Regions from separate parts of the Homo sapiens genome. Here all the other regions are linked to region 2. The links come from fine-mapping of genetic effects on gene expression. A gene starts in region 2. Each other region holds a variant in brackets. All regions are shown on one strand. Distances are from middle to middle.

Region 1 (8,172 bases), 23 kb before region 2:
TTTGAGTTAACCGTGACTTCTGAATTCCGAGAAATGAGGTTGAGAATTCCTGCTAGGATCCAAGAGCTATTTATGTCCATTTGCCTAAGTATCTCCGGAAAGTCACCAGTGAGCCTCGGAAGTGCATCCTGGGCTCCTCGGCATTCGATAACCTCTGAGGGTGGATGCAGGAGGACGCCGCGGGTGTCGGGAGGAAGGTAGGCTGGCGAGACAGGAGTCAGGTGGAGAAGGACAGGGCCACTGTCCTGGGCACCAGCTGTACCCTGCAGACGGCACCACAATGCCCAGCTCCAGACATGAGCTGAGGACGCTTCGTGACTGACAAGATGCTTTGAATGCCATAGCACCGCCGCTCTGGTCCGCTTGCAGTGGGTGCCCAAGGATGGGTCTGCAGGATCACTTGTGCTGTGAAGAGCACCTATGTTCCAGGGCGAGGTCTGTGTCCCAGGACGTCAGGCCACATGTGGCCTCGAGGTACCATCCCTGGACCCAGGCATCAGTGGCGGTGTGTCCCGCTCTGCCCTTGAAGCTCCAGTGCCCTCTGCTCCTGCTCAGGGGAGCTAAGTGTGCGGGCACTGGGCTTGGTGCTGTTCCCAGGGGTGGAGAAGGGGTTGTACCACGTGGCACCTCCTCCCTTCCTCAGCCAGCGCTGCTGTCAGTAGACAACAGGACCGGGCAGGAGACGGAGGTACTCATGGTGTCTAGAGTCAGGGGACCGCCAAAGTGTGAGATGCCAGGTCCTGGTGGCCAGGCCAGGGCTCTGGGTAAGTCCCCGTGCCTGTGGGCCCTTGGTTTCCCCATCTGTAAAGCTCACGGCTGGGCTAGAGGGCCAAGTGGGAGGCCCAGGCCCTTCCTGGCCTGACGTCCGAGGGTCCACAGGGACATGGGGAAGGGGCGGGAGGCTGCTTCACAGATCTCAGAGCTGCTCCCTTCCAGGGTTTTCCCCGCACAAAGCTCCCTCGGCTCCCTCCCACCCACCCCCATCCTTGCCCTCTCCCAGTGAACCCACATTCTTGGAAGTGGCAGGCGCCAGGTCGCTTGCTCGCCTGTGACCTCTGCCCGCCCTTAGGCAGCTCATCCTGAGGACTGGCCTCAGGCACGCATTCCAGATGGAACAGGAGGGAGTGGACACCTCCTACTGGCCATTCCCAGGGCCCCAGTGCCCGAGGGCCCCAGCCCAGTGGGGTCCAAGCCAGGCCCAGTGCGTGGCCACGGGCAGGTCCCAAGCCCAAGGCAGTCTCCAGAGTTTGCCCTGTGGCCTAGAGAGGGTTCCCAGCTGAAGGAGCCCCAGGAAATCACTCATCCATGGGGTGGGGTCAAGCATCCCTCAGCGCCTGGCCAGCACTGGGGAGGCTGCGAGGCAGGTGAAGGCGGGAGCAGGCATCCTCGGCAAGCCGGGCCGTGACACGGAATCTAAGTGCCGCGGTGCCATTGGACTTCCAAACCGAAACACGGCCCACAGACCCCAAATAACTGACACAGCTTACAGACCTCAAATAACTGACGCGGCCCGCAGACCTCAAATAACCGACGCGGCTTACAGACCTCAAATAACCGACGCGGCTTACAGACCTCAAATAACCGACGTGGCCCACAGACCTCAAATAACCGACACAGCTTACAGACCCCAAATAACCGAACCGACACGGCCCGCAGACCCCAAATAACTGACACAGCTTATAGACCCCAAATAACTGACGCGGCCCGCAGACCCCAAATAACTGACACAGCTTATAGACCCCAAATAACTGACGCGGCCCGCAGACCCCAAATAACCGACACAGCCCGCAGACCTCAAATAACCGACACAGCTTACAGACCCCAAATAACCGAACTGACGCGGCCCGCAGACCCCAAATAACCGACGTGGCCCGCAGACCTCCAATAACCAACACAGCTTACAGACCCCAAATAACCGAACCAACACGGCCCGCAGACCCCAAATAACCGACATAGCTTACAGACCCCAAATAACCGACGCGGCCCGCAGACCTCAAATAACCGACGCGGCCCGCAGACCCCAAATAACTGACGTGGCCCGTAGACCCCAAATAACCGACATGGCCCACAGACCCCAAATAACGGACGCGGCCCGTAGACCCCAAATAACCGACGTAGCCCGTAGACTCCAAATAACCGACACGGCCCGCAGACCTCAAATAACCGATGCGGCCCACAGACCTCAAATAACCGACGCGGCCTGCAGACCCCAAATAACCAACACTGCTTACAGACCCCAAATAACCGACGCGGCCCGCAGACCCCAAATAACTGACGTGGCCCGTAGACCCCAAATAACCGACATGGCCCGCAGACCCCAAATAACGGACGCGGCCCGTAGACCCCAAATAACCGACACGGCCCGCAGACCCCAAATAACTGACGCAGCCTGCAGACCCCAGATAACCGATGCGGCCCGCAGACCCCAAATAACTGACACAGCTTGGTGCACTTGATCAGAAAGGGTGGCCGTACTGCAAAATTAAGATGTCATTATTCATGGCTAAATGGGGAATCAGCCCCCGAGCACCTATGAAATCACAAAAGGTCTGCTTGTTTCTGGAGTGTCTTCCTTTTGGCTGGCAAAGGGAGCAGAAAATGTGGAAAGTTCTGTCTACTTAGAGGCCCTTCCTCAAAGTGGGCTGGCCAGCAGGATTAGGAGGGAGATGCCCATGGCAGGCAGGTGGTCTGGAGGCATTAGGAGGGAGGTGTCTGTGGTGGGCAGGTGGTCTGGAGGCATTAGGAGGGAGGTGCCTGTGGTGGGCAGGTGGTCTGGAGGGATTAGGAGGGAGGTGCTCACGGCGGGCAGGTGGTCTGGAGGCATTAGGAGGGAGGTGTCTGTGGTGGGCAGGTGGTCTGGAGGGATTAGGAGGGAGGTGCCCGTGGTGGGCAGGTGGTCTGGTGGGATTAGGAGGGAGGTGCCTGTGGTGGGCAGGTGGTCTGGAGGGATTAGGAGGGAGGTGTCTGTGGCGGGCAGGTTGTCTGGTGGGATTAGGAGGGAGGTGCCCGTGGCGGGCAGGTGGTCTGGTGGGATTAGGAGGGATGGTTCCCGGGGGGGCAGGTTGTCTGGTGGGATTAGGAGGGAGGTGTCCGTGGTGGGCAGGTTGTCTGGTGGGATTAGGAGGGAGGTGTCCGTGGTGGGCAGGTTGTCTGGTGGGATTAGGAGGGAGGTGTCCGTGGTGGGCAGGTTGTCTGGTGGGATTAGGAGGGAGGTGTCTGTGGTGGGCAGGTTGTCTGGTGGGATTAGGAGGGAGGTGTCCGTGGTGGGCAGGTTGTCTGGTGGGATTAGGAGGGAGGTGTCCGTGGTGGGCAGGTTGTCTGGTGGGATTAGGAGGGAGGTGTCCGTGGTGGGCAGGTTGTCTGGTGGGATTAGGAGGGAGGTGCCTGTGGTGGGCAGGTGGTCTGGTGGGATTAGGAGGGATGGTTCCCGGGGGGGCAGGTTGTCTGGTGGGATTAGGAGGGAGGTGCCTGTGGTGGGCAGGTTGTCTGGTGGGATTAGGAGGGAGGTGCCTGTGGTGGGCAGGTTGTCTGGAGGGATTAGGAGGGAGGTGCTCACGGCGGGCAGGTGGTCTGGTGGGATTAGGAGAGGAGGCACCCCTGGCGGGCAGGTGGCCAGCAGGATTAGGAGGGGAGCTGCCCATGGCAGGCAGGTGGCTTGGCAGGATTAGGAGGGCAGGTGTCCCTGGTGGGCAGGTGGCCCAGCCTACCCAGAACCTCCCCAGTTCAGCCACATTTCCACTTAACAGATTCAGAAACAACCCTTCAGTGGGCTGTGCTCACATTGGAGCAGGTGCTTGGGGACCTGGGATCACTGAATTATCCAGCAGCACCTGTGTCCAGGGCCCCATGCAGACATCACTCTGCGGCAAAGGGATTGGGCAGGAAACTAAAGACAAGGAAGGGGAAGAGGCTGAATAGAGGTCAAAACAGAATTCCGGAAAATAAATCTGGATTGTGAGATATGGGTATAGAGGAAGCAGGCTAATTGTTCAGACATGGGCATCAGACCACTGGCTTTTGTTTTGTGTACAAAGGGTCAGCTCAGGGTGCATAATATTTGCCCTTATTCTTTTTCTTCCAGTATTTCTTTATATTTCTTACCGACTCTCTCTCTCTCAGGCTTTCTTTCTTCTCACTCATATAGTTAGAAATGGCAGATCCAAGGAGCTTCTCTCTGAACATTCGACCCTGTGCAGCTCAGTGTTGCTCTGCAGAAGGGCCAGCTCTGGGGCGTGGCAGGTGCCTGGGTCAGTGGCTTTCAGCACATTCCCCACG[C/TC]ACTGCCTGATAAGGCTGCTCTGTGTGCAGGGACGCAGGATGTGGCACTACAGCAGCCTGGGCTGTTTGCATGAACCTTATGACTGACGGCAGCACCTGCCTTCCCGCCAGAGTGTGAGGCTCCGTAGCTGTGGCCAGCGGAGCTGGCAGAGCACACAGGAGTGACCTGTCCCAGCAAGAATGCGGAGCTTGAGCCTGAGCGGCCTCCTGGGCAGAAGTGCGGGGCACACTTTGCTGCATTTTGCTGCTGGAGGAAGGAGCAGGTTCCGTGTGGATCCTCCCCACCTGCCGTCTCCCAGGACAGGAGAACTTTGGAGACGGCACCTGGAGTCTTGGACCCTGCTGGATGTCTTTTCCCTCGTTGGCCCTGTGGTGTATCCTTCTGTGGAGACAAACCACACCCAGGAACGCCGCCGCTGCTGAGTCCTGAGTGTATCTTCCAGCCCCTCCCTGAGTGTATCTTTCTGTGGAGACAAACCACACCCAGGAATGCCACCACTGCTGAGTCCCGAGTCCTTCCAGCCCCGCCCTGAGTGTGCAGAGGCCGTGGGGCCTGACACTGCATGACGGGCAGTGTGCTGCTCACCCAAGCCTCAGAACAAAGTATGAAACTGATTGCTTTCCATCGACACATCCAGCCCAGCTGAGCCTGGAGGCCGATTTCACACATATTTACTACATCCCTGCCGTTTGTCTCTTTCTGGTTTCAACATTTAATCAGGAGGGGCTGGATGCCAAGCCTGGAGAATATGAACCAGGAGGGACCTTCCCGTCATTGTCATCGAGGGGAGGAGAGGTCAGGGGACAGTTGCTCTGCAATAGGAGGTGGGCACCGGGCAGAAGGTCGGGGTCTCACTTAAGAGGAAGCTGAGGTGCAGGGAGGAGGCTGGAATGGAGACGGGAGGTAACCATCCCACTGGAGGGACCGACCCTCAGTGCTCAAAGGGCAGGTGAGGCCAGGAAGGGGCAGACAGGAAGGCTCTGAGCCACAGCTGAGCAGCAATGGGGGGTCTGGGGAGTGGTCGTGGGGGCAAGCAGTCAGGCTTCCAGCTGGGGAGAAAAAGTATCCAGGTGGTGTGGAGGTGGCAGAGCAGGAGGCTGAGAAAGGGACCTGGAGGCCCGCTGGGGTCAGGGCAGTCCACAGAGCAGGAAAGATGAGGTCCAGGGAGCGGGGGCTGGGAGAGGAGGAGGGACAGGAAAGGTGGGGAAGACTCCTGGGCCTGGAGGTGTGGCCTGATCTGGGAAAGGGGGTAGAGAGTTTGGCAAAATGTCTAGCACCCAGACACGAATGCTGGGAGAGCAGTGCTGCTGCTGAGCTGCAAAGACATTGTGGGGGTGGAGCTGGTTCCATGGAGGATATGAGGGGCAGGGGTGGGGCCGGGGCCATGGAGGACATGAGGGGAGGGGTGGAGCTGGGGCCAAGTGGAGCTGGTTCCTTTGTGGGACTGATGGACGGGTGGAGCTGGGGCTAAGTGGAGCTGGGACCGTGGAGGACATGAGGGGACGGGTGGAGCTGGGGCCGAGTGGAGCTGGGACCATGGAGGACATGAGGGGAGGGGTGGAGCTGGGGCCAAGTGGAGCTGGGACCATGGAGGACATGAGGGGAGGGGTGGAGCTGGGGCCGAGTGGAGCTGGGACCATGGAGGATGTGAGGGGAGGGGTGGAGCTGGGGCCACATGCACCCAGTATTGAGCTGTCTTGGGATATCTGAGGGAGGCATCAGGAGGCTGCGGCAAATGTGTGTAGTGGTCAGGACTGGTGGGCAGACTGCAAATGGTGTTTTGTGGACTGGCAACAGAGTCTTGCAACAGAGTCTAGTGTCTAGAATCTTGAGAGTATTGGGAGGTGACAGTGGCCACCATGTTGGTCAAAGGTGAGGGTGCCTGAATCCAAGGAGGCACCACTGTGAGGGGTTGGGTGGCTGAGCCGGTGCCTCTGTGGGCCTGGGGGGTCCTGTGTCCAACACCTCTGTCTCCTCCCTGCCAATCCTCTTCCTCCTTCCCTTCTGGTGTCCCTCCCTGCTTCCTTCTCCACGGAGTCACCCTAGCCCCATTTAGCAGTGCCAAGAGTCCATGGACTCCTCGGTTGAGGCTGCACCTGTCCTTCTCCTAAACTCTCCCCTACAAGGCTGAGGGTGACACTTCTGTTGGCCAAAGGCTCACGCCAGGTTCTGTGTGGTTTCTCACCCACAGGAGGCCCCGAGGCAGAGCTCTGGGGCCAGGGACCAGATTCACACACAACCTACAACCATGCCTGCACTGAAGACACCAGCAGGGCAGCAGGTCCTGCACACTCCCAGGTGTGCTCGGGGAGGTCTGTGTGATGCCTGGTCCAGGCCTAACCTTGAGGCACTCCCTGGCCCCTCGTGCCCACATCCACTCCACTCCTCACATGTGGAGAAAGGGAAGAAGGCTGGGCTGGCCAGGGCAGGCCACACAGCAGGATGTGCAGGGTCACCCACTCCCTCACACCCCTCTGCTGTACCCAAATCACAGAAAAGAAATGAAAAAATGTTTTTCATCATTGTAATGAAGATCTCCTTGCAGAGACAAGCCACCCAAAACCACACTGCATTGATCAAGTGGGGACTCCCTTCATTCAGCTTGACACTAAAAGTTGCAGCACAATTTTAGACAGGGTGGTTTTTTCCCTGACTATCTAGAGATCTGTGAGAATTAAACAGCATATTTTAAAACAACCAATGGGCCAGAGAAGAAATCACAAGGAAAAGCAGAAATGACTATGTGGAGATAAATGAAACAAAAAAACCCACGAGACAGCTCAGGGATGCAGGAAAAGCAGCACTCAGAGGAAAATTCATAGCTGTGAACATCCACATAAGAAAAATGAGCTCAAGTCAACCATCTGATTTTATACCACAAGAAACCTGAAAAGAGAAGAGCAAGCTAAATCCAATGCTAACAGAAGAAAGGAAGTAATAAAGACCAGAGCTGAGACAAATAAAATAGACAACAGAAAAATAAAGACCATCAATGAAACTCAAACTGGCTCTTTAAACAGATCAAGAAAATTGGCAAACCTTTAGCTAGACCGACAAAGAAAAAAAAGAGAGACTCATTTTGTATTGGAAGTTGTAGCCAGCACAATTAGGCAAGAAAAAGAAATAAAGCCCTCCAGACTGGAAGGGAAGAAGTAGAATTATCCTTATGTACAGATGGCGTGATAATTATATATACAGGAAATACTAAAGAATTAACAAAACACCAACTAGAGCCAATAAAGGAACTCAGCAAAGCTGCCGGACACAAGGTTGGCACACAGAAATCGGTTGTGTTTTGTTCACAAACAAATAAGCAATCTGAAAGGAAAGTTAAGAAAAGAACCCCATTTATAATAACATCAAAAGAATAAAATCCCTGGGAAAAAAATTCAACCAAGGAGGTGCAAGATGTGTACACTGGAGACAGCAACGCTTTGCTGGAAGAAATTAAAGAGCTAAATAAAAGGAAAGACGTCCTGTGCTCACGAATTGGAAGACGTGGTGCTGTTGAAACGGTGACGCTTCTTAACGTGGCCTTCAGATGCAATCGTGACTCCAGTGGCGCTCAGAGCGGGCGTGGCCCCAGATAAACACTGCCCAGGAGCCCGCGATGGGCACTCTGAGCCGCGGGGGTGAGACTGTGTGCAGAGACATGACCTTCCGCTTTATCTGTGAGGGTCTTTGGCCTCGATGGCCTTCCCCCAGGAAGCATGCTGCACACTCTGTGTGACGTCCATCCACTCGCCCAGGCCTCACCTCGACAGGATCTGGGATGGGTGTCTGCTGCCGTACCCCCGATGCGGGGAAGCCAGCATCTCATGGCTGGTGCCCTTCCTGGGGGCTCTCCAGTCCCCTGCGCCCTGAGGCCAGGCTGTGCCCATCCTGGGCACCCTCCT
Region 2 (8,172 bases):
TCGTACGCGCGACCGACCATCCTTACGCCCTGTGAGAGGCCCTGCGTCCCGGGCCCCTCCCACCTCCTGAATGCCCATTCCTGGCAGAGGCCAAGGGGTAAAATTTGAGCAGAGATAAACCCACCTCATGTGGGCTCACGTACTTCCTAACAACTCAGAGCTCCGAGTCTCCCACAACCTGCCTTTGGGCCAGGACCCGATCCTGGTTCTCTTCAGGGCGGACTTCACATGGGTCCGGCCTCGGGGAGCAGCTGCAGGCTCCTCCTCACTCTCGGCCTCCGAGACTCCCCTTCCTGGGGGCACCGCCAGGAGGCTGGCCTTGACCTTGGGCCTGTCACCCTCCGGTTGGAGGTCTTCACCCTTTGGCTACCCGCCTCGTCTCCTTGGAGGTTTCGAAGGCACTCTGTCCTTTCAGAAGCTGGGGAAGGAAGTGTTAGACCCAAGGAGCTCCCTACACACACCAGGTCTCTGGGGTCCCCCAGCCCAAGCTTGTCCTCGCACTCAATCCCGGCATTGAGAACATGCAGGGTGCAGCAAACAGCGCCTCTGATGACCAAGAGTCAGCCCTGAATTGAGAGCTGGAAGGGGCTCGGTTGAGTCCCCTTTGAGAGCCTCCACCCTACTCACAGAAAGCTGGCAGCTCACAGATGACCACATAGAAACACAGATGCTAACCAGGCAATGGTGCCATCGGCACAGGGCCTGAACCCTGAAGGGACGATGAGCTCATGCTCCCAGCTGCACCTAAATATTGCAATTGTGGAATGAAAGTAGCCACAGAGGGCCAGACGACATCTTCACACCACACCATATCCCACAGCAACCACACTGCACCAGCCACACCGCCCATCCCACGGCAACCACACTGCACCAGCCACACCGCCCATCCCACGGCAACCACACTGCACCAGCCACACCATCCAACCCTGCAGGTGTTTCCCCATAGGTGCCACACCCAGCGCAGCCCCAGGCCTCCCAGTTGGCAGGATCTGTGGCTTTTCAGCCTCAAATTCAGGCCCTCGAGAACAACTGTTCTCTGAGTTAAGTGTGAGGACTGCAAGTTACAGGGTGCGAAGTGACACCTATTTCATTTCGGAGCCTGCTGGAACGTAAGTCCTGATAGCACCCCTTGCGGAGACAGGCAAGTTCACATTTGCTTTTGCTCGTTAACAGTGGTGACGGAGACACAGCTTGCAGAAGGAGGTGCCCCAGCTTTAACCACTGGACAGGTGGCCTGCAGGTCCTCCAGAGGGGAGCAAACTGTCCATCCTGTAGAGCACCATGGGCCGACAAACCAGCCTTTTGAGAGGACGGCCTGGCCCAGCCAAGCTGCTGGACAGCAGCTCAGAATCCAGGGCTGACTCATGCCTTTGTGCCTGGCCAGGAGCGATGCCACCAAAGAATCTGACCTGTGACCTGTGCCCTATGCCCTTACACTTGGGAGCTCAGCAGGCAGCTTGCCCCTGGCAGGCGTCAGGAGCCCCCCAGAGCACAGCAGTGGGGCAGGCAGAGTCAGGGCCACCCTGCCCTGGCCACGGCCTCCAGGCTTCCTTCTCAAGACCCCATGGCCATGGGGTGAGCCTGCCCAGGTATCTACGCTGTGAACTTGGAGACACGTGCTGTGAATTACGCTGTCACACTACGCTGTGAACTTGGAGACACATGCAGAAAAATGCTGCACCAGACTGATGCAGCACGGGAGGGCAACTCCTCACACTTTCAGAGATTTTCTCAGGTGCAAATGTTACTTGTTGTGAATAAAAACAGTGAGCTGCTGAAATGCCACACTCTCCAGGCAGATCGAGCTCAGCAGGCTTTCACAGTCTTGGGTGAGCAGGAGCTCTGGGCTGCCAGGCCGGCTGGGACCGGGTGGCCCCGGGCCGAGGAGGTGGTAGCAGGAAGCTCCACCAGGAGCCAGGAGCTGAGAGGAGAGTGCACGAACAGGCTCAGCCTGCGAGGGGTGGTGCCCTTCTTGGATTGGGGAGGCCCCCGCACAGTTGTTCGCAGAAGGGCCAAGGGTTAGAGAGGAGGAGGCGAGGAAGGGGATGAGAGGGACCCCCGGGCTGCGGCAGCACCCCCACCTTCAGAAGCCCTTCTCCGTTCACTGTCCTCTGTCAATGACAGTTTTCCATTTTGCAAATAAGGGTCTCAATTTGAGGCTGAAAAGCCACAGATCCTGCCAACTGGGAGGCCTGGGGCTGCGCTGGGTGTGGTACCTGCGGGGCAACAGCGATGGTTCCTGAGGCTGGTGGGAGCCTGGGGGCAGGCAGGAGCCCTGGGGCTGGCCTGCTGCCCCCTGAGGTGCTGCTGGTGCTGGAGACGCAACCTTGTCAGGTGTCTGAAAGGTAAGTGCGGAGACCTCAGCCAGCCTCAGAGGTGAAGCAGCCACTGGAAGACGATACTGAATGTTGGCAAAGGCATCTCTCTTGCTTGGACATTTCGAACGGAACAAGAAGAAAATGAGCAAGTGACTCAGACCGATGGCTCCTTATGCAGCGAACACTGGGTCTGCTCCGAAGCACGCCAGCCGGCGTCTGTGGCGGCCGCACATTCTAGAGGCCATTGGCATTCTCTGCACGTGCCCTGGGTCCTCACCGCCTGTCAGCTGTCCCTTACCAGCACACACAATGCATTGTTCACTCAGCTGTCAGCCCTTCCGGAACCCAGACATTCAGCAACTGCAGCAAAAGCTTGCTGGTGCCTCAGGGAGGGACCCACGATGGGCTCGGCTAGCCGATCCAGCCAGCTGCCAGCCACGAGCCCCTTCCCGCTGAAACACCCTTCCCGTGCCTGCCGTGTGCGCGGCCGCCTTCTCTCCGCCACAGCCTCCACTGCTGAAGCCCACCTACGTCTGTCCGCACTGCCTTTCATCAACTTTCTAATGGGAAGGGGCCGGCAGGGTGGCGTGGAGGAGGCCGGTGACCAGGGTGGAGGGGCTTGGGGTGGCAGGGACCCCAGCCCAGGCACAGACCAGGTTTTCACAGGGCACGGATGCCAGCTTTGCGGGAGGGACGTCGCCTCCATTGATTAAATGATTCCACATTGCCATATGCCTGCAACTCATTAGTATGATCAGCACCCAGCACGCGGGGAGCAGAGGTGCCCAGACACGCGGCCTGTCCCCGGCCCCCACTCCACAGAGCCTCCCACCCCGGCACTGAGCCCGGAAGCCCGGTCACCAGCTCGCCATTCCACAACTTTTCCAGCCTGGGAGTCCCCATACGGGTGGCCGCCCCCCCGCAGCGGCCTAGCCCCCAGCTGCAGGACCCCCGGGACCCCCGTACTCACCATGAGCGCTGCAAAGTTGCGGAAGCGTGAGCGCCGCTGGAGGAGGCGTCCAGGGGGAGGCGATCAGGTGGCGCCCTGCTCCCCGCCAGCCTCCATGGCCTCTGGAAGGTCAAAGTCCCAGACGGCGGCCAGGAGGTCGCGCTCCCGGGCCCCTGGCCTCAGGGTGACCGCGGCGGGGCGGGCGCAGTCCGGGAGCTGCTCCCATCTGTGAAGACAGCGGCGGTCAGCGGGGCGGGCGGAGGGTCCCCGCGGAGGGCAGCTCGCAGCCCCGACCCCGCCAGGGAGCAGCCGCGGCCCCTGTCGCTCCCTCCCCTCCGCGGGCGGCCTGGGGGCTGCGCCTGGGGCTGGCGGAGGCGGTGCCGGTGGGGACCGGTGGGGGGCTCGGACCGAACGCGCCAGCGGCAGATGCGTCTCCTTCTCCATATTTAAAAATCAATCTGCGCCCCACTCCCGGCTCCGGAGCCAAACTCAACCATCTCGGGCTGCACAAAGCCAGAGGCGCGCCGGGGGGTTTGCACCGGGAACCGGCACCGAGTGACCCGCCCGCCCCAGCCCGGCCGCGGCGCCTGCTCTGCCTGGATGTGGCTCGAGCTCCGGGCCGGGCGCGCGGGGCGGGGGCCCTGGATTATCCGTGGCGCCTCCCGCCCCAGCGGAGCCGAAAGTTACTCGGAGCTGCTTTCCTCGCGGCCAGTGTCACCTCGGGGCGCGAGCTTTTCTGCCGAGCCGCGGCCCCGCGCGTCCCTCCCGCCGCCCAGACCCGCGCGTCCTTCCCACCTGCTGTGGCCGAAGCGGCTGCCGGGGCGGCCGGGCCGCGCTCCCGGAGACAGACGCGCTGCGCTCCCCCCGCCGGGGACCCGCTCTCCATTCGCGAGGGCAGCGGCCGAGCTGGGACCGAGTTATCAACAGATTGCGGGGCTGCGGCGCCGGCCGGTGAGTCACAGCCCCGCGCACGAGCGGCCCAGCCCGGCCAGCAGCGCCGCCGCCTCTGCGCGCACCTCCCGCGGCGACAGCGGGGACCCGGGGCCGGAGGCAGGCGCGTAACCATGGGGACCGGGGCGGGCGATGGCGGCGGGCGGGCTCCTGCCGCAGGGTGGGGATGGCTCTTCCAGCCGGGCGGCCGCCGTCACACTGCAGAGCGTATTTAAAGAGACACCTCGCTCCGCGCTCGCTCCCCAGCACCAGACCCTCGCCCGAAAACGCCGCCGGGCGGACTGCACGACCCTGTGTTATTCCCAAAGACAATCTCCATCCGTGGAGAAGCTGCAGGAACAGAAATATACACAAGAAAATGGATTTGGAAGGAATTTTCCATCCTTTATTTAACATTCTCAAGTCCAGATATGCCAGAACCGAGGTGCACCTGTCGTGAACCCGTCTGAGTGTGAGTCAGCAGGGCAGCCGCAGCCGGTGTAGACAGACAGGGCCTGTGGCTGTGCAGAAAGCGTCCCTGTCCCCCTACCCCAACCCTCCTGCATCCTGGGCCACAGAGCTGGGCATCCAGAGCCAAGGCGAGTGTGGAGGCCAGGGTGCCAGGGGCGGCGCAGCCCAGCCTCCCACCCGCAGCGAGGTTTGGGCTCTGCACACATCCCACAGGTCCCTATCCTGCCCCAAGGGGCCTCCTACCCGACAAGGTGGGTCCAAGTCCACTCCAGTTTTCGTCACAAACTCCGTTTTCTGGGGCACGTGCTGGCCTGGTGGCAGCCTCAGCAAGAGTCTCAGGAACTGCCCTGGGGGACTCCACACCCCTCCACCTGTTCCCCCTTTGGCCCTGGGTGACCCCACACCCCTCCACCTGTTCCCCCTTTGGCCCTGGGTGACCCCACACCCCTCCACCTGTTCCCTCCTTGGCCTCCACCCTTGCATGGCTACTTCTGCCCCAGGTTCTGTGACACTGGCGCCTGTTCAGGGGGTCCCCAGGCCCTGCTGCCATGGATTTTGAGGGGCCTGAAGGATGTACTATTGGGAGGTTGTCATGAAGACTCACAGAGGCAGAATTAGATGCAGGGGTGACAGCGTTCCGCTTCCCCGGCCTCTCATTATGGGGCTTTTGAGCGGGATGTGCTCAGGGCCCCACTGCCCCATCTAGCTGGTGTTCCCAGAGCCCCTCTGTGGGGACACTGTGCTGGTCCCTGAACTCCAGCTGAGGGACACAGGGTCCAGGCAGGCGACGGTCTAGTTCCCAGCTGGAGACGCTCTAGGCACCCCAGGACCTGGCCGCCCTGACTCCCTGGACACCGTTCCCTTGGAGCCTCGGAGCCCCCCCTGGTGTCCCCTGGGTGATGGTCCTGGACAAGAGGGCTGGGAAGAAGCGGGCAGCAAGGGGAGGATTCTGCCCCAGACGTCCCCAGGCCGGGGGTCCCCATGGGCTCTGCCCTGACGTCTTACTCCTGCACCCAGCGGCTCCCACCACAGAGACTGCTCCAGGTGAGGGTACCACACTGAGCACAGGTCAGCCTGTGTCTCCCGGGAGGCTCCTGGCACATCACAGTTGGGGCCCAGAGGAGGCCCCGGCCGGTGGGGGGAGTGGCCCTGGCTTGTCTCTTTCCCTGCACACGGACTGGAGCCCTGCCCTGAGTCCCACGGGGACTTTGCGGGGGAACTTCTCGAAGGTGCTGTGGGGGCAGAGGGAGGTGGTGGAGCCAGCCAGGCTCTGGGAGGCCCCAGAGAAGCTCCCACTGCCCACCTCAGTCCTAGCTGGTTTTGGGCCCTGGGCTGGGCCCCCACAGGCTCCAAAGGGAAAGGTTGTCCAAGGGAAAGCCCTGGAGGCCGCTGGTATCCGGGTAGGACACACAGAAGGCTACCAGGTGCTGTGGGGGCCCTGGGGTCCGGCACTTGAGGCAGACAGGTCCACTGGCTTGCGAATGTCCTGCTGCCCCCGCACGTGGTGGTCAGGACCCGGGAGGGCTGCCCCTCCCCCCCCATTCCACACCTAGTGATAACCTAGGTGAAGGAGAGAGAGCCAGGGGGAGCTGGCACTGCCACGTGTTCCAGAGCTGCCCTTGGGCAGAGTCTGTGGGGCTCGGCCTTGTGAGGGGTGGGGGCACCGGGTGTCTCCTGCTCACTCACAGCTGCCCCCCAGGGCCCCTCCCCCGCTGCTCTGCGAGCCCCTCCCTGGAGCTGCCCTTGGAGGGCACCTGCTTCAGGTCTCATCTCCAGGGTGGTGCTGGGGACCGGGCACTGTCTCCTGAACAGTCCCACATGGTGGCCTGGGCGGCACGCCTGTGGGATGGGGAAACCGAGGCACAGACAGTCACGTGCTCTTCCAGTTGCAGGTTAGACCCCACTTGCGGTTGTGTGTTCCAGAAGTCTCCGGGCGCTGTGTGGCAGGATGAGGAGCTGCCCCCCTGGAGGATCACGCAGGCCTCTGGGTGGCATTCAGCAGGTGAGCCGGCGGCCGTGTGCCCGGCAGCCCGGGGATGTCAGCACTTGCCCTGCCACCAGAGGTCACTGCCCCGGGCCCTGGGCCCCCGGCCCTCTGCTCACTGTTCATCAGCAAAGCGTCTGCTTTCTGGACTGCAGGGTTGGCTGCGGCACCGGCTGACCACAGGGCCCACCTTTCCAGTCCCGGCAGGAGAGAAGCGTCTCAACCATGTTGCAGGCACACGGGTGAGGGTGCTGCCTGCCTCCCTGACTCTTACCTCCCCAAGAGAGGAAAACAAAAGAAAAAAAGATAAGACCAGGAAATGGAAATAAGACAAAGAAGAATGAAATTTTAAAATCCGAACAAACCCAAACATGCTGTTTCAAAACGTAAGTCCATGAAGAGTCTCGTGGTGAGAAAGACAGAATTCCTAGCCAGGAAAATGCCCCGTGCTTGCCCCTTGGAGGCAGGTGCTCACCACGGCAGGGTCTATCTAGGTGTTTATTAAGGTGTCTCACCACGTATCGCCCGGATTCACCAGAGATGCAGAGGCGGAGGATACGTTCCTGTTTACATTGATACATAGTTACATAGGTGAAGAGCTTTACAGTGAGGAAGCGGCTCACGCGGCCATGAGGGACCCAGGCAGGAGCTGCTGTTGCTGCCCCAGGTGCGATTCCTTCCTCCTCAGGGAGGCTCAGCTCCCCGCTGCAGCCAGGTGGGCCCAGGCAGGCCTCCTTGGCCTACAGCGCAGACGGCCAAGTGCTGGTCACGGCCATTGCATCTACACCACCCCTTTCTCAGCAGCAACTCCACGAGTGCTCGATGGGAAACTGCAGACAGCAGCCTTGCCAAGCGGATGCCCAGGGCCGACCACCGCAGCCCCTCCAGCCACGTTCTCCATCAGGGCAGCCTCCTGCTGGCTTCGGCACTGCAGGTAGCACACCAGCGAGGGGTGGGCCTGTGTGCCACGAAGCGTCATCCATGGACGTGCCACGAAGGGTTATTCTTCTTTTGACTTTTTCTGATGGTTTAAAACTGTAAGAACACACAGCTCACAGTCCACACGGAAGCAGGCATGTGGCTCCTGCCTCACTGTGGGAGGAAAGATGTTCTCAAAAGAAATGGCTGGGTTTGCGGAGGGGTTTGTGGAGGGCCGGGCAGTCTGAACACAGCCCAGCTGGCCTTGGTGGAGGTGGGCCTGGCACAGGGGGGTGGGAGCAGTTCTTCCTGACGCAAATCCTAACGCCTTCAACACTGACCTTCCAAAGAAACAGCTGCTGGACGCCGCCCGACAGCAACGAGAGCCCCACTCCTGAGGCGCGCGACTCTCGAGGGCTTTGTTGTTTATTTGGCACCCGAGGCCCAGGCTCACAGGGTCTCGGGTGCATGGGACCCCCCAGCCCTTCCCACTGCTCTGCGATTCTTCCTCCCTTCTGGAAAGGTCAGTTTGGGGTTCTATTCTGGGAGGGGCCAGGCCGCCACCTGGCCTCATTAACTGGGCAGGCCACTGGGACCTCCTC
Region 3 (8,172 bases), 42 kb before region 2:
ACCAAGGGTACTTTCTGGACCATGACAGAGACATGAGTACTAAACCAGCCAATCCCACACCAGGGGTATTCACCCCTCTAGGACCTGGACTTGGAGTAATCTCTGAGCCAGGGCGCAGACATGGGTACTCACCTGCTTTGTCCCTGGCCGATGTCAGCCCTGCACCACTCTGTGGCTTGTTCAGTGACCCTGTCTGGGAGAGGCTGGGGGGCGGCTGGCAGGGAGGGACTTGAGCTCTGGGTGCCTCTGCTGCCGGTTCTGACCTGCAGGCCTCCCTGAAGGGCTATGTTGGGTGTGGTTGGAGTTGTGAGTAGGGAGCAAGGTGTCTGTTGCGATTACAGGGGAAGTTGTTGATATTTATGTAGAAAAGAAGTAATTAGAGTGAGTTTAAGAGTGTCCTCTTAACAGTGGTTTTCCCAGTACCCACGTCCTGGGATGGGAGTGGGAAGGAAAGGCAGGCCCTGGCAACCCCAGTCATTTCCTGGGACACAGGACAGAGGTGTGAGGTCCAAGTCGGCGCCCACTTGGGCCTGAGCGGTGCTGCTTGTCCTCTGGAAGTCGGCCGCCTGCAGATCTGTGGCCGGGGGGATGCAGCCTGGGGTCTGGGGTCCTGAGTCCTTGCAGGACCGTCTGTGGGCAGCCACGTCTGTGCTCAGGCACTGGCCCTGCAGCCCCCAGGAGGCCTGGACAGCCAGTGTTGGGAGTTGCCCTGGTGGGCCCCAGCTCACCCAGCAGCCCTCCCTCCAGGCCCAGAGGAGCCAGCACGGCGGGCATGAAGGGCTTGTCTTGCTGCTGAGCCCACTTGCAGCCTGACCTGTCTCACTGGGAGACACTGATCTTCTAGCTGTGGCCCGAGGGACAGGCCTCTCACGTGTGCCAGGCCCTCCTATGCCCCTCCTGCTCCGCCTGCCCTGAACAACCACAGCACTCAGATGCCTGCTCAGACTTGGCCCCAGGGACCCTCCGAATTGGCTTCTCTGTCCCTGTGCCCAGTAGCCTCCCCAGATGCCCACCAGGCCCCGCCTCCACCCCACCGTTGACCTGGCCTCACAGCACTTTGTCTGTCCTCACGGGGTGCTCACCCTTTCCCTCCCCCTACCCCGTCCCCTGCCTCCCTGGGCACACGCTGCCCCTGCAGACACAGGGCCGGCCTCCATCTGCCCAAGGTACCCCCACCCCACCCACCTCAAAGGCTACAGAACAGTCCTTGGTCTTGAATACAACAGGCAGAATTTCTGGCCGAAGGTGCCTGTGCAGTAAAGGCTCTGCAGAAGCCTCTAGGCTCAGGTACAAACCCTGGCAGTGCAGTGGAAGGGAAGCGTGATGAAGTGAGACACAGAGGAGCAGGATCCACGTGAGACACGGAGGAGCAGGGTCCACGTGAGACACGGAGGAGCAGGGTCCACGTGAGACACGGAGGAGCAGGGTCCACGTGAGACGTGGAGGAGCAGGGTCCACAGTCCCCGCACAGTGAACACACCCACTGTTCCAGCTCAGGCCAATGCTGGTCCCGACAGCGTCCCCCGAGAAATGCAAGCACCAAGGGTCAGGGAGCAAGTGGCAGGACCGGTCAGGCACCATCTGGGCACTGGGTAGGTGTGGAAGTGCCCGTTGCAGCCAGTCTCTGCACATGGGGGGCATTCACCACATCAGTGCAGGGCCCTGAGCTCCTTCCAGGGTCCCTAGACAGGCTTCCTGCAGCTGCTGTCACTGATGGGCGACACTGCAGCCTAGCGTGTGGCTGCTGAGCTGCCTTCTGCCAAGGCCCTCCCAGGGGCCCAGTGCTCCCATTCAGCCTGCATCCCTCCTCAGTCCTGCTCAGGCAGGTGGAACGTGCGGGCCCCAACCCAGCCCCTTCCCCGCAGAACCAGTGGGGGCTCCTCAGCTGCCCAAAGCCCCTGCAGGGGTGGCTCATTCAGAGACAGAGCAGGCCGACCAGATCTGAGCCCTGTCTGGGGCCTTCGTGGGCGACGCGGCAGATGCCACTGTGTGTCTCCCAGGACTGGAGGCCTCCTCAGCTAGGACTGCTCCAGAGAAGAACTGTCAGGGTCTGGAGGCACAGGCAGCTTCTGCTTCCTAGTCCTTTAAGCTGACTAAAGTCACCACAGTGTTGCCGTGTGGTAGTTACACACCCGCACGGAGACAGGGCGGAGGGGCCGCCTCACAGTGTTCCTCCAAAGAGCATGCACACACATGCACACTTACCCTCAAGCACACGTGCATGTGTGCACACAACTCCCACAGAGGGACCTACACACCACACAGGCGCACACTCTCACACACTAACACGTCAACACCCACACAACCCACAAGCCACTCACAAACACACAGGCACACAGGCAAGCACACTCACACAGGCCAGCATACACGCACACTCCATCGCATCCGACACGCAGGCACACGGACTCACACACACACAGGCACACAGGCACACTCGCACAGGCCAGCATGCACGCACACTCCATTGCATCCGACACACAGGCACACGGGCAAGCACGCTCACACAGGCCGGCATGCACGCACGCTCCATTGCATCCGACACGCAGGCACACGGGCACACTCGCACAGGCCGGCATACACCCACGCTCCAGTGCGTCTGACACGCAGGCACACGGGCAAGCACACTCACACAGGCCGGCATGCACCCACGCTCCATTGCATCCAACACGCAGGCACAGGGGCACACTCGCACAGGCCGGCATGCACCCACGCTCCAGCACGTCTGACACGGAGGCACACAGGCAAGCACACTCACACAGGCTGGCATGCACCCACGCTCCGTTGCATCCGACATGCAGACACACGGGCACACACAAGGAAGGAAGTGGCACGAAAGTCAGGTGCGGAACGCAGGGTCTGGCTCTGGCTTCATGGTCTGGTGGAAGCTGACTCCGAGCCAGGAGCCCCTCAGGGTGGTTGGGCTGTGGATGTTTATGCTCCAAAACGTTACGTGCAATTGGATATGGCCCAACACCAGTCCCAAGTGGACTCATGAGGCTAAGTCAGTATAGAAACACACAGAGGTTTAATGTTCAATGTTGACTTTCTTTGGTTGAATGGTGGGACGCCTCTCTGCTCAGCCGGGGGCACTGAGGGTGGAAAGTTCATGAGGGGCTGCAGGGGCCAGGGAGAGCAGCCCTGCCCCAGGATCCAGGACACAGACGGGGGCCACACATTCAGGTGCCCCTCTACCCCATCGAGGGTGAGAAAAACACACGGGGATGCTATTAACCAGCCTCACAAAGAACAAACAATGCCAAGACTGTATTTTTGTGTGGACGGTTCTGCACCTACAGTGCGTACACAGCACAGCGTGGGGATTCGGGTTCACATCAGCTATGGAAGCAGGTGAGAAGGTGAGGCAGAGGCAGAGCCACCTGGTGGTCCTCCGACGGCCCGTCTGGTCGACCTGTAAGGACACACGGGGTTTGCTGGGAGGAGCACGCTGTGGGTTACTGAGTCACGGTCAAGTTTACCGACACCCCGGGAAGTGAGGCTCCTCATACTCAGATACTGAGTGCCAGTCTCCGGAGAGCCCTTCCACCGAGCAGGTGCTGGGAACACTCCCCGACACCCCTCTTCTCGGAGGTGCACGTTAGGGAGGCTCTGCTCCTGGTGAGACCTCCCAACCGGATAGCACAGCGCACCGACGAGTCTGCTGACGTTGACGTTTGCAGGGTGAAACAATCTCCAATGCAAACCCAGTGTGTGGGTGGCTGGAAAACACACTACTACGTGTGTGTGCACATGTGCACAGCAGGTGCAAGTGTGTGTTAAGTATGTGTGCACGTGTGTTTGTGTGTGATATGCACGTGTTTGTGTGTGTGCGTGTGTGTGATATGCACGTGTTTGGGTGTGTGTGCGTGTGTGTGATATGCACGTTTGTGTGCATGTGTGTGATATGCACGTGTTTGTGTGTGTGCATGTGTGTGATATGCACGTGTTTGGGTGTGTGCGCGTGTGTGATATGCACATGTGTTTGTGTGTGTGCATGTGTGTGATATGCACATGTGTTTGTGTGTGTGTGTGTGGGTGCACATGTGTCACAGACAAGGAGGAAGAGGGAGGGAGGGAAAGCTGTGCACAGTTTCACACCCATGACCCTCTGGACTCCCTCCCACCTAGGGACGGGCCACTTGCTTTCACAGAAGTCTTGCTGTCATCCACATCTGTCCTTTGAGTCAGGGCTTGGTACCCAGATGTTCATGGAGACGAGAAAAAGGGAAAGGGATTTTGTCCATGAGAATCTCCCGTCTGTCAGCCCCTTTTCTTTTTGGAATAAACCTTCGTGTTGCTAAGTGCCTATACTGGAGTGGAATCCAGTCCCAGCGGTGGCTGGTTTTGGAAGTCGAGTCTTCACTAAAGGATGTCTGGGCATTTTCCCAAGCCTTGGGCCCGTGAAAGCCCCCCATTGGCCCTCTGAGGCTGACAGCCATCCCCAAAGTCCAGAGCAGCCCCCAGCATCTGTGGTGCTCTCAGCCCTGCAGGGCTGGGGCTACGACAAGGACAGGGCTGACAGGGCACACTGAGTGGGCAGAGGTGTGCAGGGGCCCTGTGAAGCTGCAGGGGTGGCTCAGACACACGACAGCGGAGGGTCCCGAGGGTTCTGCCCAGAGCGAGAATGCTGGGGACAGACCTGCCGCCGCCACCCCCGGAGTAGAACGCAAGACACACACATTGAACACTGGGAAAGGTCAGGGCAGCCCCCTCCTGCGATCTCGGCCCTGCCCGGCCACACCAGGGGAAGCCAGGACTCCGTGGGCAGCAGGGCATCTCGGGCAGGGCCATGCTGGGGTCTCAGTGGGTCCTTTGATGGAATCCCCTGCTCTGCCTCTAGGGTGCCCCAGGACTGGAGA[C/T]CACAGGACAGAAACCGGATGACCGTGTGCGGGACCAGCACGCGGAATTGGGATAAGGGGAGTGGGCGTGGCCCGGAGCGTTTCCCCGCTGAGGTCTTTCACAAGGAAGGGGCAGGGGTGTGATCACAAGGAAGGGGCAGGGGTGTGATCACAAGGAAGGGGCAGGGGTGTGATCACAAGGAAGGGGCAGGGGTGTGAACGGCTTCTGAAAGGCGGGGTCACTTCGGTACCCCCAGTGACCTCATGTGGCAGATGGGCCCCCCACTCTGCTCTGAAGCTCCTCCAGGAACACCGTGTCCTCTGCCCCCATCTACACAGTAGTTTCGTTTTTCCAGGGTCCCGTTCGGATGTTGCCGGTCCCGTCGGTGCCAAACGGCAGGCCTTCTAGCAATTTACCCTTGGGCAGCCCGTTCTGGCTGGGGCCACCAAAGGGCAGGGACTGTGTCCTCCGCAGCATCTCCAAGTGGCCGGGCCCGAGCGCTGCCTCCCTGCCCGGCTGCGTGGGGCAGCTGTAGAGGGCAGGGCTCCCATCACTGCCCTCGGGCTGGGTGACCATGGGGAAGGGGTCGCCCTGGGTGCAGCAGGCCAGCGTGTGTGTCCCCGCCGGGCCATCCAGAGAGCTGGGGGGGCTGTCTGTGCGCGAGCTGCGGGGGCTGCCATCCAGGCTGGATGGGATGTGGTAGGCGTACTCGGGCTCCTCTGCTGGGTGCCGGCTAAAGTAGGGCGGCTTAGTTCTGCCCTGAAGGCACCCGTGCAGGTGGGGGTCGTGCCCGAAGGCGCCCTCCTCCTGCAGGTGCACGTGCGCCTCGTCCGCCGTCAGTGGCTCGCAGTGCATCTTGGCGCAGCACGGGGTGGCCGGTGACAGGCAACTGGCGTGGCCCTGCGCGGCCTGCAGGTTGGTCATCTTGCAGGGGCCCGGTGGGTGCGCGAAGCCCCGTGGCTGGCCCAGTCCCGGCGAGTGCAGGCAGGCGGCGCGGCCCAGCGCGGCCCCGTTGGCGTCAAGTGCGGGGTGGGCGTCCTTGCGGGGCGGGCAGCATGCCCACCAGCACTGCCACACGTCCTCACGCTTGGCGCAGTGGTGGATGAGCACGAAGAGTCCCAGGGTCACGCAGAAGGCGCCGTACAGGCAGCTGAAGACCATGTCCAGGAAGTGGCCCTGTGACACCGCCAGCGCCCCGAAGGCCCACGTGGCCGTGAACAGGAACAGCGTGAAGGCGGCGGCGCGCAGCTGTGCCTGGAATGAGTGCTCGTTCTGCAGCACGGAGGCGCCGGGGGCATCGTGTGCGGGTGGGGTGCCTGGCCGGATCCCACGGCCGCCCTCGGGTGTCGCCAGCCGCCGCTGCTCCTCGGGCTGTGTGCGCAGCTCGTACCTGCGCCCTGGGTGGCGCCGCAGCTGCACGTAGGTGCCCAGGAAGTACACACAGGTGACCAGGGTGATGATGGCGGCTGGGCCGTAGAAGGCGCCCAGGCTGGGCTCCCAGGCCATCCAGCAGCTGTGGGGAGACGCACGTCAGTGTCAGCGGGGCCAGCACGGCCAGGACTCAGGACGCCCCCTGCAGAGCAAAGGGCCCTGCACCCACCCGGCCTAGCGAGTGGCTTTGCACAGCTGCGGCTTGGGGGCCTTGGGCGTTTCTAGAGTCGCTGAGAGTGTGGATGGGAACCGGGCCCTATTGGCCCTACCAGCTTGGGAGGTGGGGTAGCCAGGAAAGTGTCCCAGGTGCGGGTAGAGGCAGAGCCAGGCAGGGGGCCAGGTGCAGGGCGGGTCTGGGTGGGCAGGGGCAGGAAGGACAGAGCTGGGTGGGTGGGGCTGGTGTGGGGTGGGTGGGGCCAGGAAGAGGTGAAGTGGGGTGGGCGGGGCTGAGCAGAGGGCAGAGCTGGATGGGAGGGGCCAGGCAGAGGGTGGAGCCTGGTGGGCGTGGCCAGCGTGGGGTGGGCGGGGCCAGGCGGAGGTGGAGCTGGGTGGGCGGGGCCAGGCGGAGGTGGAGCTGGGTGGGCGGGGCCAGGCGGAGGTGGAGCTGGGTGGGCGGGGCCAGGCGGAGGTGGAGCTGGGTGGGCGGGGCAAGGCGGAGGGCAGACGGGCGGGCCATCCTGGGGCCGCAGAAGGAACTGAGGGCCCTGAATGAGAGGTTCCAGGCTGGCTCTGGGCACTGATGGCTGGACCGCCGTTCCTACTCGATGGGGTTTCCCTTCTCAGCTGAGCTCTGTGCTGTTGCCAAATCGCTATTTGTCCCCAGGCCCCTCCCATAGAAGGCAAACCAGGCCTGCCTTGTCCAAAGGCAAAGATTAGGTTGGACTCCCTGGGAGAGGAGGGGGCGCTGCGCACTCCTCGGGGGTGCGAGCTGGGAGGGGCGCAGCTCTCGGCAAGCCCCAGGTCCAGGCCCAGGCCTTGCTGCTTCGTCCTGGGCTTCCCCACCACAGGTGCCTGGGAGGGACCTCAGGCAGAGCCCACCCGCTGCTCCCAGCTCCCGGTTCTGGGTGCCCGGTACTCACTACGCCGTGTCCTCGTCCTCTGTCCCGTAATTCCTGATGTTCGTGGCAGCCGTGACCCCACAGATGATAAAGGGGACCCCTCCGCTGACGAGGTAAAACCTGCCGGGGAGGAAGGCGTTGACCCCCTTGCAGACGCCGCCTGCATCCTCCGGGGTCAGCGCTGTCCCTCCCCCACTCCGCGGGGCAAGGGAGAGCAGCGGGTGCGGGCGGAGCAGGAGGAGACCAAGAACCCCGACCCCCGACCCCCGACCCCCGACCACTGACCGAGCAGCCAGTGCCGGCCTCGCTGGCCTCCCGCGGGCCTCTGCGCCTGGAGAGGGCCCTGACCAGGTCCTTTCACGGGTGGGCCCCGGGAGAGCTCCGTTGGCTGCGGACTTCTCTGCAACTGCAGGGAGCCCCTGGCTACAGGCGGGACTGCTCCCCGGGGCAGCGTGGGGTCACACAGGGAGCTGTGCGTCCCACCGGGTCCCCAGGTCATGGCCCCTCCCCGCGGGTAGTGCGTGGCCAGTGACCAGCAGTGCCCCGTTTTAAACAGTTTTAAGGCCCCGCTCAGCCTCAGGGGAAGAAGGTCGGAGGGCCGAAGTATCTGCTCCCTGTCAGACCGAGGAACCCCGCCTTGGAGGGGCAGAGTCTCATCCTGACAGGCACAGCCCGAGCCCAGGGCAGGGGCTGACCTTCCCCTCTGCAGGGCCTGGCAACGGTGCTGAGGGCGCCCAGGGATCCAAGCGGGATGCAGCGTGTCCCGGACCGGGTGCACTTGCTCACCGCCTCCAGCCCCCACCCGGACCCATGAGACAACCCCTGGCTGCCACCCCTACGGAGCATG

Which allele goes with the higher level. Positions count from the first base shown, and alleles are read on the strand shown. Sizes are in standard deviations (SD) of each study's normalised expression.
In carriers of allele TC in region 1, the expression in spleen of the gene that starts at base 4,277 in region 2 tends to be higher than with C alone (large effect, 1.5 SD a copy in GTEx).
With allele C in place of T in region 3, the expression in fetal neocortex of the gene that starts at base 4,277 in region 2 is higher (large effect, 0.95 SD a copy in Walker 2019).

Evidence for each region. PIP is the estimated chance that this variant, and not a neighbour inherited with it, causes the effect.
Region 1: its variant is fine-mapped to the expression of ADGRA1 in spleen (GTEx, PIP above 0.99).
Region 3: its variant is fine-mapped to the expression of ADGRA1 in fetal neocortex (Walker 2019, PIP 0.95).

Annotation. Positions count from the first base shown.
Region 1 is chr10:133,106,559-133,114,730 of GRCh38, reverse strand. The region is part of intron 5 of ADGRA1 (adhesion G protein-coupled receptor A1); the gene reads right to left. Among named protein-coding and RNA genes, the nearest start is that of ADGRA1, 23 kb to the right of the region's middle. The variant C/TC (reference allele first, on the strand shown) is at 4,276.
Region 2 is chr10:133,084,029-133,092,200 of GRCh38, reverse strand. It overlaps ADGRA1 (adhesion G protein-coupled receptor A1), which reads right to left and starts at 4,277. Exons shown (of 7, transcript NM_001083909.3): 1 at 4,063-4,277; 2 at 3,289-3,493. The coding sequence starts at 3,291. It overlaps ADGRA1-AS1 (ADGRA1 antisense RNA 1), which reads left to right and starts at 5,504. Exons shown (of 3, transcript NR_111905.1): 1 at 5,504-5,712; 2 at 6,555-6,670; 3 at 6,808-6,957. RefSeq lists an enhancer at 2,361-3,123.
Region 3 is chr10:133,126,506-133,134,677 of GRCh38, reverse strand. ADGRA1 (adhesion G protein-coupled receptor A1) reads right to left here. Exons shown (of 7, transcript NM_001083909.3): 6 at 7,347-7,445; 7 at 3,003-6,349. The coding sequence ends at 5,167. Among named protein-coding and RNA genes, the nearest start is that of KNDC1, 30 kb to the left of the region's middle. RefSeq lists enhancers at 6,442-7,154, 7,155-7,866. The variant C/T (reference allele first, on the strand shown) is at 4,857.